Linked DNA regions of Homo sapiens. The protein of the gene in region 1 interacts with the protein of each later gene in a biochemical or structural test. Each region holds a gene or a part of one and is shown on either strand. Other genes may lie near its edges.

Region 1 (4,488 bases):
GCATTTAGATGATTTTCAGTATTTCACAATTATAAACAATGCTACAATGAATAAATACCCTTTTGCCCATGTATTTTCATACTGTTGGGGTATATCTTTGGAATAAATTCCTAGAAGTGGGATGCTGGGTTGAAGGAAAGCTGCTAGATATTGCCAAATACCCTTCCAAAAGGCAGTACCAGTTTGCATTTCCACCAGCAATGCACAACTGTTTTCTCTCAGTCTCACCAAGAAAATGTCTTCATATTTCTCCCTGAATCTGATAGGGGAGAAATTGAATTTAGAGTAGTCTTCTTAATTTACATTTTTTTTTTTTTTTTTTGAGATGGAGTCTTGCTCTGTTGCTCAGGCTGGAGTGCAGTGGCATGGTTTTGGCTCACTGCAATCTCCTGGGTTCAAGCGATTCTCCTGCCTCAGCCTCCTTAGCCAGGATTACAGGCATGCACCACCACGCCAAGTTAATTTTTGTATTTTTGGTAGAGATGGGGTTTTGCCATGTTGGCCAGGCTGGTCTTGAACTCCTGACCTCAGGTGATCTACCCACCTCAGCCTTCCACTGTGCCTGGCCTTATTTTTTTTTTTTTTTGAGGCAGAGTTTCACTCTTGTCACCCAGGTTGGAGTGCAACGGCACGACCTCGGCTCACTGCAACCTCCACCTCCCAGGTACAAGCAATTCTCCTGCCTCAGCCTCCTGAGAAGCTGGGATTAAGGCATGCACTGCCAAGCCTGGCTAATTTTTGTATGTTTAGTAGAGACGGGGTTTCACCATGTTGGCCAGGCTGGTCTTGAACTCCTAACCTCAGGTGATCCGCCTGCCTTGGCCTCCCAAAGCGCTGGGATTACAGGCGTGAGCCACCGCACCCGGCCTTTACATTTCTTTAATAATGACTACAGTTGAACGTCATTTCCTATGTACAAAGGCCATTTTATATCTTATTTTTGTGTGAACTATATATTCTGATCTTTTGTCCACTGTTTTTTTCTATTGGGTTTCTGGTCTCTGTTCCCTGTTTTTATGAGTTCTTTATATATTGGGAATATTAGCCCTTTTCTTGCAAATTTTTTCTGTCAGTTGTCTTTTGACATTGTTAATGGTGTTTTCCAATAGTTTTTGGAAAAAGTCTTTGGCCATAAAAAAAGTTTTTTAAAAATTTTAAGTGGTTAGATTTATTGATCTTTCTTTTTTTTTCTTTTTTTAAGAGCCAGGGTCTTGTTCTGTTGCCCAGGCTGGAGTTCAGTGGCATGCTCATAGCTCACTGCAGCCTCAAACTCCCAGGCTTCAGTGATTCTCTCAACTCAGCCTTCTCAGTAGCTAGGACTGTAAGGGTGCACTGCCACACCCGGCCCTTATCTCCTTTTAATATATGCTGGAGAGCTAGGCCTAAACAAAAGGTCTATCTCTAGCAAATGACCTGAAAATAACTTCTCTTACATTCATGTTATCATTTCTATTTTCACTTTCTTTGTTTACCTTATTTACCTGTTTTATCTTGTATGCACTTTCCTAAGCCATGGAAAATTAATTATTTAGGTAAGCAAATTCATCACATTAACAAAACTAATTAGTGCTGTATCTATCCTACCAGTCTTGCATACTGTCAAAGGCATATCTGATTAGAAGCTATATTCTGGGATTAGTCTGATGCTTACCTTTTCTGCTACTTCTCGTACAGACTGAACACTTGTTCCATATAGATGATTGTTATACTGGCCAGCTTCAATGAATTTATGTTCCTGGATATCTTTTTCCATCTGCTCTCTTGAAGTCACAAAATGATAATCTCTTCCATCTACCTCATAATCTCGTTTTGGTCTAGTTGTATCTTTAACAGAAAAAAACTTGGGAAAGTGTTTAATATTAAAAAAAAAACCACAATAAATCCATTTTCTACTTACATCGTTTTGTAAAGTTCAACAGAACAGATTAATTTAAATCTGAGAAAGGACAATAATATGGAGGATGGAAGAGTAACTGATAAAATAAGTACAAACCATTAAAAAATGGTTATATCTATTTTTCCCACACACAGTGACAGGAAATGTTAAGAGTAACAATTAAATGTTTTTGTTTGGTTTACTTACGAGGAACACAGGATCCAAATTTGTCAGGAAATTCTGAGATCAAGTCATCATTTATCCTGTCTTTCATAGGTCCCAATATGATCACTGGTCGAGTATAATTAACTATAAAGATAAACTGCATGTTAAAAGGAATAAACATTCAACAAATATCAATGTATTTTATTTCACCAGCGAACAAAAATATCCTTAACTGTTATGACTAATTTTTTTCTTCCCTCTCCATCTCACTCTACCATCAACCAAAGATGCGTAACTTGCTCTTTTATAATCTTGACTCAGATCTTAAACTTTACTTAGTCTTCTGCTAGAAGTCATATTGATAATTCAATCAAGTTAAATTTGGTGTTTTCGCAGATAATGTTTCTTTACATTGCAAATGACAGAATAAAGTCTAGTGTTTTACAGATGGCTTTGAAGTAGAAATTGTAAGGAAGCAGAGCAAAGAAGGGCAGAACAGAAACTGGATGTAGGAAGTGATATAATCCCAGTAGTAGCATTCTAGAAAGATGATCTAACAGAAGTGTAAACTCTGGGTGGTCTGGGATCATGCTGGAATAATGGAGATTGGTAGTGAGACTGAGAACTAACATTGTGATAGAAGGGATGAAAAGAAGGTCATAAATAAGAAAGAAGTGGGATAAACAGTGCCTGGAACCTAACTGGATGAGGAGGAGGAGGAGGAACAGAGAAGGCTCAAAGATACTTCCAAGATTTTCAAAAAAGGGTTATTTGGAAGATAGTGATGCTAACAAGAACACTGGAACAAAGTTGCTTGGGAAATAAAACACAAATATAAAAGTCAGTATGAAATGACTAGATTCTAATATTCTGTGGAGTAAACTATGTTTCATAAAACACATGTAGTAAATTTCTACATGTATATGTAGTAAAAAAAAATTTTAATACAACATTTTTTGGGGTATGAGAATTTTTTTCCCCCAAATTAAAAAGTATATTCTTCTAGAAGGTTATAAAACATCAATAGGCTTCACAAACCTTCTTGTTGATTCACTGGTTCATAAGATAAGACGTATTCTTCTTGACCACCTATTAGAAAGTGAAGGCACAGATGAAAAATGTGTAAAGATAATTGATGCTAATCTAATTCTTCATAAACAACATATACATTACTAGAACTTTCCTGAGAAAATGGCAAAGATATGGAAAGAGGTACTTTATGGCAAGATTTAGTTAAAAAAAAGTGTCAAATTATAAAGTCTTAAAAGTGAGTTTGCTAAATGTAAAACAAAATACAAATGGGCTATATAATCAATATTATATTTTATAGATAATCAAATCTAAAAATCTTCATTTGTGATGCTATGTGCTACTCCTTTATTTAGAATCTAAGAATTATTAAATCTGTTAAAGATTAATGCTTTAATGAGCAGATCTGTCTATCATCTATCTACGTATTAGGTAATTTGTTACTATTAAAAACATGCTACTTTTTTTGTTCCACCAACTACAATACTGAATACAGTATATTTTATTTTTAAAATAATTACATCTTAAAATTAAAAATTATAAATGCAAAGGTAAAACTACTGTTACTATTTCACTGATGAAAAATTCACTAACTCAACTTTGTAAAAAAATAATAAATTTAATGTGAGTCAAAAAGAGCTTTAGATAAAACTAAATCCTTCCAAGAAAATAAACAACAGTGATAGTAAAGGAGATAAATATATTTGCTTTGACCTTAAAAACACAAGAAGTTAAAGCTTCTAAAGGTTAAATTAAAGGTTCGGAGCTTAGGAAATACTCTAAATAAAAGAGTCTACAAATTATATCTGAATATCTGAATCCAGTGAAAAGAAATAAATAGTTAAAAACTCTGAGAGTTTTTTTTTTTTTTTTTTTTTTTGAGACGGAGTTTCGCTCTTGTTGCCTAGTCTGGAGTGCAATGGCATGATCTCAGCTCACTGCAGCCTCCAACTCCCGGGTTCAAGCGGTTCTCCTGCCTCAGCCTCCCAAGTAGCTGGGATTACAGGCATGTGCCATCATGCCCAGCTAATTTTGTATTTTTAGTAAAGATAGGGTTTCTCCACGTTGGTCAGGCTGGTCTCGAACTCCTGACCTCAGGTGATCTGCCCGCCTCGGCCTCCCAAAGTGCTGGGATTACAGGCGTGAGCCGCCGCGCCCGGCCAAAAACTCTAGGAGTTTTAAACTAACACACACACATCCCCCCTCACCCCCACGCCTAAAATTAGAAAAGACTGTGTTAACCCAAGTGGTTCAATGAAAGCAATCAATATTGGATAATGTATTTGAAGACTTTCTCTTTAATTATCAAGATCCTATAACAATTTTACCATGAATTTTGCAATTGGTTTATATTATATGTATGTAGCTGTAGGTCTTTTAAATCCATACATTGGCATAAACATTCTTTTCTGTTTTAG
Region 2 (3,994 bases), on another chromosome or scaffold:
AGGTTACAAGACTGCTCTTCAACATGTGTTGCATTCACTAACAATAATGTCAGCCAGAATAGACAATAATAGTACTTATCTGTCCAGTTCTCTAGTGTAGAAGAGAAAACAAAGACAGACAATATTCACTGCCATTAGTCTCCTGTTCCAACTGCTCTGTTGAAACTGCTTTCATAAATACTTAAATCAATACATACTGTTTTGTCCTTATCTTACTTAACCTTGTTTGCTGTTTTTCCTTTAATTTGACACTATTAATCATCCCTTCCTCCTAAAACTCTCATCTCTTTTGGCTTATCAAACCATACTCTCCTGGTTTGATTACTCTGCATGAACATTAATTCTCACTTCCTTCACTAAAACTTCTTTCTATGCCAAATCCTTACATCACCATCACTATGTTATAACTAGAAAACTCTAAGATACAAGTTAAATTTATATACACATTCAATGACAGTCCTTTGTTGCTATGAAATCTTCCAGTTATGAAATTCTTATTAAAAACTAAATACAGAATAAATAAAAATTCCTATAAACTGACCATATATGCTGAACTACAATATTCCGTGTGTCACTGAAAATATTCCATGGATTGCTTCTAAACTTTGAAGAACTGTATTTTCAAAAGACTTCAGGTCCATGTGCATTGAAGAGAAAAAGAGAAGTTCTTCTAACTTGCATTTTTCATAACATTGAAAAGGTCCTCACAGTTATGGTGCACACAAATGTAAAGACAATACAGTGTAAGCTTATGTTCTGTGCCTAATGCCAGGATCCCAAAGAATCATCCAGAAAATAAGAAGTTCACCATAGGCAACAAACTAAAAACTACTCTATGCGCAGCAATCTATCAACTAGAAAGCCTGCTGCTTTATAAAGGACCTCTGTACTTTAAGGTACAATATTGTTAATTTTCAAATGATGATGCTAAGGAATACCAGATGCTAAAGTGACGGTTGTATTACTAAAAAAAAATGAATTTTTTTGAATATTACATTAAAATATTATGAATGGCAATTCTATATAAACCCATAATATTCAATTAACTAATAAAGATTTTTATTCCCAGAACTGTTAAACTGCACAAGATCAGAAAAGAAAAAAGTTATTAGATTTGAAAATATTAAAACTAAGAAAAGATTACTTCAACTTTTACAAATATACAAGTCAATAGCCAAGACTTTGATTTTAAACTTTAATCTCAAAATTCAGAAAGCACAGACAAAGTAATTCAATTCAGACAACTGATGCAATTCTGACTCCCAAAGTTCCGCCTACGATTGACGCAAACCCCCTACTTACAGTAAATCATTTGAAACATATAGACAATGCTAATCTCCTCACATCACAAGATTCTATGACAGCTTGACATCTGGGTCTATAAGAATACATTTCCTCAAGTGGCAAAATTTATAACAAAGCTGCTCTTATTAATGGGTAAGTTAAGTTAGAATTTTTAACTACTGTTAATTCACCTCTTTAAAAAGGTGAATAGCATAAATGCTGGCATCCTTTAGCTGTAAATGAAATACGATCTGTTCCTTCATGATCTGGCCCTGTTGTCTCTCATCTGCTATCCCACCCCACCTCAGATGGCATTTCTTGAGGACAAGGACCTTGCCCTATTTATGTCTGCGTATCTATCACTGGCATAATGCCTGACACCTGGAGAATAAGCATTGTTTCATAGAAATTAAGCATTCATCTAAGTATTTGTTTGGTGAATATTACTAACCTTTTAAGGTTGCACTTGTGCCACATCTAAGGATATGAAAACAAAAAGACACATGACTTTCTCTCATGGGCCCCTACAAAACAGTAAATTACATTATGGTTGGGCTACAACAGGGGTACACAGGAGTACCCACGGAAGTAGAAGAAAAACAGTATCTGCCTCTCCTCAGAGAGACAATGTTTGAAGGGAGACTTAAATAAAAAAACAGGTTAGGCTGGGCACAGTGGGTCATGCCTGTAAACCTAGCACTTTGGGAGGCCAAAGCAGGCTGATTGCTTGAGTCCAGAAGTTCAAGACCCAGCCTGCCCAACATGGTGAAACCCCATATCTAGAAAAAAGTACAAAAATTAGCAGGGCATGGTGGTACATGCCTGTAGTCCGTAGTCCCAGCTACTCGGGAGGCTGAGGTGGGAGAATCACTGGAGCCCAGGATGTTGAGGTAGCAGTGACCCGTGATCATACCACTGCACTCCAGCCTGGGCAACAGAGTGAGACCCTGTCTCCAAAAAAAAAAAAAAAAAAAAAGCAGGTGGTCCCAGCCTGGGCAACATGCCTAAACCCTGTCTTTACTAAAAATACAAAAAAAGAGCCAGGCATAGTGGTGCAGGCCCGCAGTCCCAGCTACTCTGGAGGCTGAGGTGGGAGAATCACCTGAGCCCAAGCAAGTCTAGGCTGCAGTGAGCTGTGACTGCACCACTGTACTCCAGCCTGAGTGACAGAGTGAGACCTTGTACTGAAAATTACTGTAGAAGAGTGTAAATGTCAGGAAGCATTCACTGGGGAGCCATCTTTGGGAGGAGAAAGAAGATCACAAAAAATAACTGAACGGTACCAGGTTTAATATCTGAGTGGCGAAATAATCTGAACACCAAACCCCCATGACACAAGGTTACCTATATAACAAACCTGCACATGTACCCCTGAATTTAAAATAAAATTTTTTAATCTGTGAATTTATGTTTTAAAACATACATCAGAAATAAATTTTAACAATGAGAAATGTGGTATAATGAAGATGAAGCCAACCCCCATGTGAGTACTCTGAAACGAATTTTTTCACCTAGTAACCACATCTAACAAGTGCAGTATCATAAACATACACTACAAAACTATCAGTGTTACTCCTTCCTTTCAAATCACAAAGCACATGTCCGTGTCTTTCTTATAAAATAGCAGATAGTCCCTTGTAGTATTTTTTCTGTGATCCTTCTATTTTCCATAAACATATTTAGAGGAACAACCTCTAAAAACACTATAATGTAGAATGAGAAAAAAGAAACCAATGGAAGAAGGACTATAACTAAATGAATTACAGAGAGAATTTCCCCTGAACCATGGAAAATCCTACATCTACAGATGGAAAAAGCATAAATTGCAACCAGGAATGATAAGAAACACAGACACACACACACACCCCTAAGAATATCTGGTTGGATTCCTGAAAAAAAAAAAAGAGAGAGAGAGATAAAGAAGATCTTTTAAGTTGCAAGAGAAAACAGGTAATTAAAAAAAATTTACTTTTCATCTGCAACAATGAAAGCTAGATGATGAGAGAAAAATACAGGTGAGATACTGAGAGAACTGAAACCTAAAAGTTTATCACCCAGAAGAGTATCTGGCAAAGATTCAGAGATTCCATCACTCAGTGAAACACCTTAGAAAATGAAAAAAAACAAAAACAAAAAAAACAAAACAAAAAAACACATTAATCGATCAAGAAATCACTCAGAATGAAGAAGTAGAGGAGTCTGGTTAAGAGAAGAAGGAAAAGTAGACACATTAGTGAGCAATGAACCCTACAACACACACATAGACACATGCTTTCTGATGTATGTGTACATATACATCATATACAAATGTGTACATACATACAAATGTCCACACATTTATACATATTAGACATGTATTATGGATAATGACCTATTACCTGGACAGTTGTAGTATGAACATTAATTTTAAATTACTGATACAGGCCGGGTGCGGTGGCTTACGCCTGTAATCCCAGCACTTTGGGAGGCCGAGGCGGGCAGATCACCTGAGGTCAGGAGTTCGAGACCAGCCTGACCAACATGGAGAAACCCTGTCTCTACTAAAAATACAAAATTATCTGGGCATGGTGGCGCATGCCTATAATCCCAGCTACTTGGGAAAGCTGAGGCAGGAGAATCGCTTGAACCTGGGAGGCGGAGGTTGCAGTGAGCTGAGATCACACCACTGCACTCCAGCCTGGGCAACAAGAGCGAAACCCATCTCAAAAAA
Region 3 (3,994 bases), on another chromosome or scaffold:
AGCAAGCAAGTAATTTCTTGTGCTATAGAGAATATATTCACTGATGTGCTAAATAAAACTATCATAGTTATTCTTTTTAGTATAGCTCACTTAGAATCCTTGTCTTTTTTTCCTAAACAATGACGAACAACAAAAAGGTTAAAATGTATGCAATACATATCTTTACATATATACACACAATATTAAAAAGATATGCATTATATATTTTTGTTCAGAAAGTTGTTAAATTCATTTTAAAAAGTTGTAAAATAGCATGTGCCATTTAAAAAAAATATACGATCAGATACACATAAAAAGTCTAGAATATATAACAACATTTTAATAGTGGCTATCTGCAAGTGACAGGATTTTAAGTAATTTTCATTTGTAATGTTTTTCTATTTATTTAATTTAATTTAACTTTTTTGAGACAGGGTGTGGGTTTGCCATCCACAGTGCAGTGTTCTCGGCTCACTGCAACCTCCGCCTCCCGGGCTCAAGCGATTCTCCTGCCTCGGCCTCCCAATCTCCCAGTCACGTGTTGCTTTTTTCTATGATTGTGTAATCAAACATGTTAAACTGAAAACTTTAAAGAAGATGGGAGGCCATGTTCTCCTTCCTCATTCTCAATTCAGCATGGTCAGATAGATTTGTAGAAAGAACGCACAAAGAGTTATAAAGAATGTGGGTTCCTTCCTTCCTTCCCTTTCTCCCTCCCCTTCTCTCTCTCTTTCTTTTAGAGACCGGGTCTTGCTCTGCTACCTAGGCTACGGTGCAGTGGCACAATCATGGGTCACCACAGCCCTGAACTCCTGGGCTCAAGTGATCCTTCCACTTCAGCCTCCATAGTAGCTAGGACTATTGGCACACGCCACCACGCCTGGGTCATTTGAAAAATATTTTTATGGAGACAGGTCTCACTATGTTGCCCAGGCTTGTCTCGAACTCCTGGCCTCAAGCAATCCTCCCACCTCAGCCTCCCAAAGTGCTGGGATTACAGGCATGAGCCATCAGGCTGGCTGATAATGTATCTTTCTTTATCAGACTTTCATTTCCAAATGAGTCCCAATTCATTAAAAGCGCAAATATAATGTTTCCACAGAAAACTTTAACCATCCACCTTTGAGAATCCTACATGCTTCTAAAATTCTTGACAACAGCACAAACTTGTGAAATTTTCATTTTCTTTTCCTTTTTTTGAGACAGAGTCTCACTCTGTCACCCAGGCTGGAGTGCAGTGACATGTTGTTGGCTCACTGCAACCTCTGCCTTCCGGGCTCAAGTGGTTCTCCTGCCTCAGCCTCCCGAGCAGCTGGGATTACAGGTGCCTGCCACCATACCCGGCTAATTTTTGTATTTTTAGTAGAGACAGGGTTTCACTACTTTGGCCAGGCTGGTCTCAAACTCCTGAGCTCAAGTAATCTGCCCTCCTCAGCCTCCCAAAGTGCTGGGATTACAGGTGTAAGCCATCGCACCTGGCCTATTCTTTTTCTTAAAATAGGGTCACAGAAGTACTTCAATTTTAACGAGAATTAGAAAAGAAATCAAGTCATATAAACACTGTATTTTAAGTGACTCCCTCCATAATCTTTGGGATTTTTTAAGCCATTTAGGGAAACACACATACACAGACACACAGAAAGCAATCAAATTTTAGTGAGAATTGGAGAAGAAAACCAGTTATATACACACTGTATTTTAAGTGACTCCCTCCATAATCTTTGGCATTTTTAAAGCCATTTAAGGAAACACACACACACACACAAAAGAAAGCAGTCAACAGCTGTAACCCTAAATTTGGAACTCTGAATGTAGTGTACTTTGTGTAGTATATGGTTAGACATAGCTGACTGCAGTGTTAAGAGAACAGAAATGCCTTGGGAAGCAGCACAAGTGAACACATCTAACTTGGAGGTTTTAGGAATATTTATGTGCATATACCATCCTCCTCGGTGGAAAACCCTTGGGACTGATAGGGGGCGAGGCGCGGGTCAGACTCGTTCGGTTTATGCCACTGAGGTTTGTTCACAGGCCTGCTGCTGGTGGGATGCCCATGTGGCTGCTGTACGGATGAAGGCCCAGCTGTGTCGGAGGATCGTGCGACCATCCGCGATCTCTGAAGGGCCACGTTGTAGTCCGGCGGTTTCCTGGCTGGATGGGAGTGCCCTTCTGGAAAGTCAGTAATGGGAATTCCAATGTAGCCGGGAGGGGTGGGCGGGGGCTCTCGATACCTGCCCTCCTTTCGTGCTAGAGTAGAAACAATGCACCAGCATTAAAAACTAGTTCATGCCACAAAAGTTTATTAAAAATATAAAAATAATTACTAAAACAGCATCCACAGTGTAGCAGCAGATGTGCATTTGCATGGTATCGGTTAGAGGTGCGGTGTGAGGCAGGCCAGGGAATGCATGTTAACTAAACCAAATTTCACAATGATGTTATCTTTGTGTGGTGAAATAATTGGTGAGAGAAGCTGCTAGTCCATCTAAGTACTTTTATCTTTAAATGGGCTGCTTGTCCATTTAAAATGGTCTGTAACTATAAAATAGTAAGATTAAAACCTAACCCCTGGATTTATTGGAAAGACTGAAGCACAGGAAGAACCTAAGTACACAGCACTATGCCTAGAACCTGTTTGTGCTTGGTACAAGTTCCCTTTTTCCTCTCTGCCTGCCGGATCTGCCCTCTTTCTGGGCATTTATCTTTACCAGGCAGAGAAGCAATTCTACATCACTCTCGGGTCTCAAGACTTCACTTACAGAAACAGTGAATTAAAATAAATTTGGAAAAGTCGCACAAAGGATACCAATTTAAAAATTCTAAAACTATTACTATAAGGTGTCTATTTTTCTTAAAATCCCTTTATTGATGCTCATGACCTAGAATATGAAACCTGTATAGGCCAGTAAAACTAAAGTTTCATTTTCTTGAACTTTTAAAACTCAATTGTTAGGAACTAAAAATCATTCTTCCTTCCTTTGCAATAAAAATTCTGAGTATTAGTTGTAAGCACTTGAAAAAGTCCAACCTAAGAATATTTATTAACTGTTTTCTCCTTATTCATTGTAAAAGGATATTAAACTTGAAATCTACCCATGACTATTTACATGGCTAAATAACTACAATTTTCCTACTAATAAAAGTAATGTCCGTAATGATTATACTCCAGAATTTCTCACTCTACAACCTATCATCTGTTCCTACACTTCGTCTATATAGATGTTAATTGTGCCATAGAAAACACATCTCAACAGGACTGAGGGCGCATGAGAGCCTCTTCTAACAGGAACAGCAGCAGCAATAGCTTTCATGTACTTAGTGAATCTACTATCTGGGCACTGTTCTAAATACTTTGCATAAATTTCCTTGAATCCTCACACTAACTCCATTAAGTAGAAATTATGAAGCTCATTTTACAGATGAGGAAACAGGCACTGTTTTGTATTTTACCCAATGTCACAAAACTAATAAAGTGGCAAAACAGGGATTCAATCCCCAGTCCGCCTGACTCCTAAACCCGTGCTCTTAGTCATTACACTATTAGCACCTCTCCCTCCTTCTACAGCGTGCACAAAGAATTGCTTATCAACAATGTGCGTGCAGAATAAAAATCAATGGAAGACTTTTAAGTATACAAAGCGTATAGTTCTAAATACAATCAAGAGAACAAAATAGAAGAATCAAAGATATAAAAGAGTTTCAATTAAAGAAAAATTTCTCCTCTATGAATAATAGGAATCCATCCTGATTTTCAGGTTAAGAGAAAAAAATTAGACTAGATAATATTCACAATGACAATCTACTCATCCTGATAGCTAAGATTTATTGAATGTTTTGTTATATAGGAACAGATCTGTAGGTACCTGACCACAAAACCTGGGCTCTTAACCACTATTGATTTCAAAGACCTTAACACACCACTAATTTGGAAGTCCTACATAGCAATGGAGAAAATGAGGAAAAGAACCAACAAACACATAATTTTACTATTGTAATAAGTTACATTAAAGACATG
Region 4 (3,393 bases), on another chromosome or scaffold:
CTGCCATTTTATTTTTTTTCTGTTTTTATTATCTGTTTTCTTTTTCCTGCCTTGTTGTTGGTTATCTGAACACTTTTTAGAATTCCATTTTTATTTATCTGTAATGTTTTTGAGTGTATCCCTTTGTATATCATTTTAGTGGAAGCTCTAGGTATTTCTCTCTATATATATAATATATATGTATATAAAGATATACATATATATATATCTTATGATAGTCTATTAGCATCATCATTCTACCAGTTCAAGTGAAGTATAGAAAACTTCTTATTTCCTCTTATGTCTCTTTGCCTTCCCTCATTTATAATATAACTATCTCAATAATTCCTCTACATCCATTTAAAACCACATCAGGCAGCATTAATGTTTTTGTTTCAAAACATTAAATGTAACTTAGACTCTAAAAGGGAAGGACAGCCTATTGTATTTACACATATTTTGGCTTACCATGTTCTTTCTTATTTTCTAATATTCTAAGTTTCCTTCTTTTATAAATTCCTTTCTGTTTAGAGAACTTCCTTTAGTCATTCTTTGTTTGTTTGTTTTTTGTTTTGTTTTGTTGTTGTTTTTTTTTTTTTTGAGATGGAGTTTCGCTCTTGTTGCCCCAGCTGGAGTGCAATGGCATGATCTCGGCTCATTGCAACTTCTGCCTCCCAGGTTCAGGCAATTCTCCTGCCTCAGCCTCCCGGGTAGCAGAGGTGACAGGTGCCTGCCACTGGGCCCGCTAATTTTTGTATTTTTAGTAGAGACGGAGTTTCACCATGTTGGCCAGACTGGTCTTGAACTCCTGACCTCAGGTGATCTGCCAGCCTCAGCTTCCCAAACTGCTGGGATTACGGGCGTGAGCCACCAAACCCAGCCTAGTCATTCTTTTAAGATAGGTCTGCTGGCAGCAAAGTCTTAGTTTTCCGTCTGAAAAAGTCTTGATTTTTCTCTTTGTACTTGAAGGATATTTTTGCTGGACATAGAATACTAGTTTGGCAGGTCTTTTCTTTCAGCATTTGAGAAATGTGCCATTTCTTTCTGTCCTCCATAGTTTCTGATGAGAAATCTGCTATTCAGTAGTTTTAGGCTGCAATATCATAGTAAGGTATTCATGTCAACAGGGTCAGTAGGTCACAAGTTCTCTAAGTTTGAAGCGTCAGCTTCAACCAAACAAATTAATGGCTATTCTACATTCAAAAATCAGGAAATTTAAATTTATTATGAAATGTAATGCAGCATGTAGTAAAGACTTAACCAGTGTTTTAAAACTCAACTTTCAAAGAAAAGATAGTATTGCTCCCTGTTTCATTAAAACCTAGAGAGATGTAATCAGTAAGCAAGAAGGAAAAAGGGAAATTCACAAAGTAACTTTTTGTGTCTGTTTCTTTTTAACCCAGCATGGAGAGAAAATTTATGTCCTTGCAACCATCCATCTCCGTATCAGAAATGGAACCAAATGGCACCTTCAGCAATAACAACAGCAGGAACTGCACAATTGAAAACTTCAAGAGAGAATTTTTCCCAATTGTATATCTGATAATATTTTTCTGGGGAGTCTTGGGAAATGGGTTGTCCATATATGTTTTCCTGCAGCCTTATAAGAAGTCCACATCTGTGAACGTTTTCATGCTAAATCTGGCCATTTCAGATCTCCTGTTCATAAGCACGCTTCCCTTCAGGGCTGACTATTATCTTAGAGGCTCCAATTGGATATTTGGAGACCTGGCCTGCAGGATTATGTCTTATTCCTTGTATGTCAACATGTACAGCAGTATTTATTTCCTGACCGTGCTGAGTGTTGTGCGTTTCCTGGCAATGGTTCACCCCTTTCGGCTTCTGCATGTCACCAGCATCAGGAGTGCCTGGATCCTCTGTGGGATCATATGGATCCTTATCATGGCTTCCTCAATAATGCTCCTGGACAGTGGCTCTGAGCAGAACGGCAGTGTCACATCATGCTTAGAGCTGAATCTCTATAAAATTGCTAAGCTGCAGACCATGAACTATATTGCCTTGGTGGTGGGCTGCCTGCTGCCATTTTTCACACTCAGCATCTGTTATCTGCTGATCATTCGGGTTCTGTTAAAAGTGGAGGTCCCAGAATCGGGGCTGCGGGTTTCTCACAGGAAGGCACTGACCACCATCATCATCACCTTGATCATCTTCTTCTTGTGTTTCCTGCCCTATCACACACTGAGGACCGTCCACTTGACGACATGGAAAGTGGGTTTATGCAAAGACAGACTGCATAAAGCTTTGGTTATCACACTGGCCTTGGCAGCAGCCAATGCCTGCTTCAATCCTCTGCTCTATTACTTTGCTGGGGAGAATTTTAAGGACAGACTAAAGTCTGCACTCAGAAAAGGCCATCCACAGAAGGCAAAGACAAAGTGTGTTTTCCCTGTTAGTGTGTGGTTGAGAAAGGAAACAAGAGTATAAGGAGCTCTTAGATGAGACCTGTTCTTGTATCCTTGTGTCCATCTTCATTCACTCATAGTCTCCAAATGACTTTGTATTTACATCACTCCCAACAAATGTTGATTCTTAATATTTAGTTGACCATTACTTTTGTTAATAAGACCTACTTCAAAAATTTTATTCAGTGTATTTTCAGTTGTTGAGTCTTAATGAGGGATACAGGAGGAAAAATCCCTACTAGAGTCCTGTGGGCTGAAATATCAGACTGGGAAAAAATGCAAAGCACATTGGATCCTACTTTTCTTCAGATATTGAACCAGATCTCTGGCCCATCAGGCTTTCTAAATTCTTCAAAAGAGCCACAACTTCCCCAGCTTCTCCAGCTCCCCTGTCCTCTTCAATCCCTTGAGATATAGCCAACTAACGACGCTACTGGAAGCCCCAGAGCAGAAAAGAAGCACATCCTAAGATTCAGGGAAAGACTAACTGTGAAAAGGAAGGCTGTCCTATAACAAAGCAGCATCAAGTCCCAAGTAAGGACAGTGAGAGAAAAGGGGGAGAAGGATTGGAGCAAAAGAGAACTGGCAATAAGTAGGGGAAGGAAGAATTTCATTTTGCATTGGGAGAGAGGTTCTAACACACTGAAGGCAACCCTATTTCTACTGTTTCTCTCTTGCCAGGGTATTAGGAAGGACAGGAAAAGTAGGAGGAGGATCTGGGGCATTGCCCTAGGAAATGAAAGAATTGTGTATAGAATGGAAGGGGGATCATCAAGGACATGTATCTCAAATTTTCTTTGAGATGCAGGTTAGTTGACCTTGCTGCAGTTCTCCTTCCCATTAATTCATTGGGATGGAAGCCAAAAATAAAAGAGGTGCCTCTGAGGATTAGGGTTGAGCACTCAAGGGAAAGATGGAGTAGAGGGCAAATAGCAAAAGTTGTTGCACTCCTGAAATTCTATTAACATTTCCGCAGAAGATGAGTAGGGAG

Evidence for each region. Proteins that work in one complex are often made in the same cells at the same time.
Region 2: the proteins of DLG1 (region 1) and GUCY1A2 interact in a test that uses a peptide from one of them, tested with the Homo sapiens proteins (2 studies listed by IntAct, with this or other methods).
Region 3: the proteins of DLG1 (region 1) and RAPGEF2 interact in a test that uses a peptide from one of them, tested with the Homo sapiens proteins (one large-scale study listed by IntAct).
Region 4: the proteins of DLG1 (region 1) and CYSLTR2 interact in a test that uses a peptide from one of them, tested with the Homo sapiens proteins (2 studies listed by IntAct, with this or other methods).

What each region holds. Positions count from the first base shown.
Region 1 is NC_000003.12:197,063,625-197,068,112, forward strand, and holds part of DLG1 (disks large homolog 1), read right to left. Parts: intron 3,131-4,488; coding exon 3,080-3,130; intron 2,186-3,079; coding exon 2,084-2,185; intron 1,841-2,083; coding exon of another isoform or gene 1,827-1,840; exon of another isoform or gene 1,825-1,826; coding exon 1,652-1,824; intron 1-1,651. UniProt on the Homo sapiens protein: Essential multidomain scaffolding protein required for normal development. Recruits channels, receptors and signaling molecules to discrete plasma membrane domains in polarized cells.
Region 2 is NC_000011.10:106,941,977-106,945,970, forward strand, and holds part of GUCY1A2 (guanylate cyclase soluble subunit alpha-2), read right to left. Parts: intron 1-3,994. UniProt on the Homo sapiens protein: Has guanylyl cyclase on binding to the beta-1 subunit. Isoform 2 acts as a negative regulator of guanylyl cyclase activity as it forms non-functional heterodimers with the beta subunits.
Region 3 is NC_000004.12:159,354,085-159,358,078, reverse strand, and holds part of RAPGEF2 (rap guanine nucleotide exchange factor 2), read right to left. Parts: intron 2,227-3,994; coding exon 1,921-2,226; intron 1-1,920. UniProt on the Homo sapiens protein: Functions as a guanine nucleotide exchange factor (GEF), which activates Rap and Ras family of small GTPases by exchanging bound GDP for free GTP in a cAMP-dependent manner.
Region 4 is NC_000013.11:48,705,435-48,708,827, forward strand, and holds part of CYSLTR2 (cysteinyl leukotriene receptor 2), read left to right. Parts: intron 1-1,382; 5' UTR 1,383-1,383; coding exon 1,384-2,424; 3' UTR 2,425-3,393. UniProt on the Homo sapiens protein: Receptor for cysteinyl leukotrienes. The response is mediated via a G-protein that activates a phosphatidylinositol-calcium second messenger system.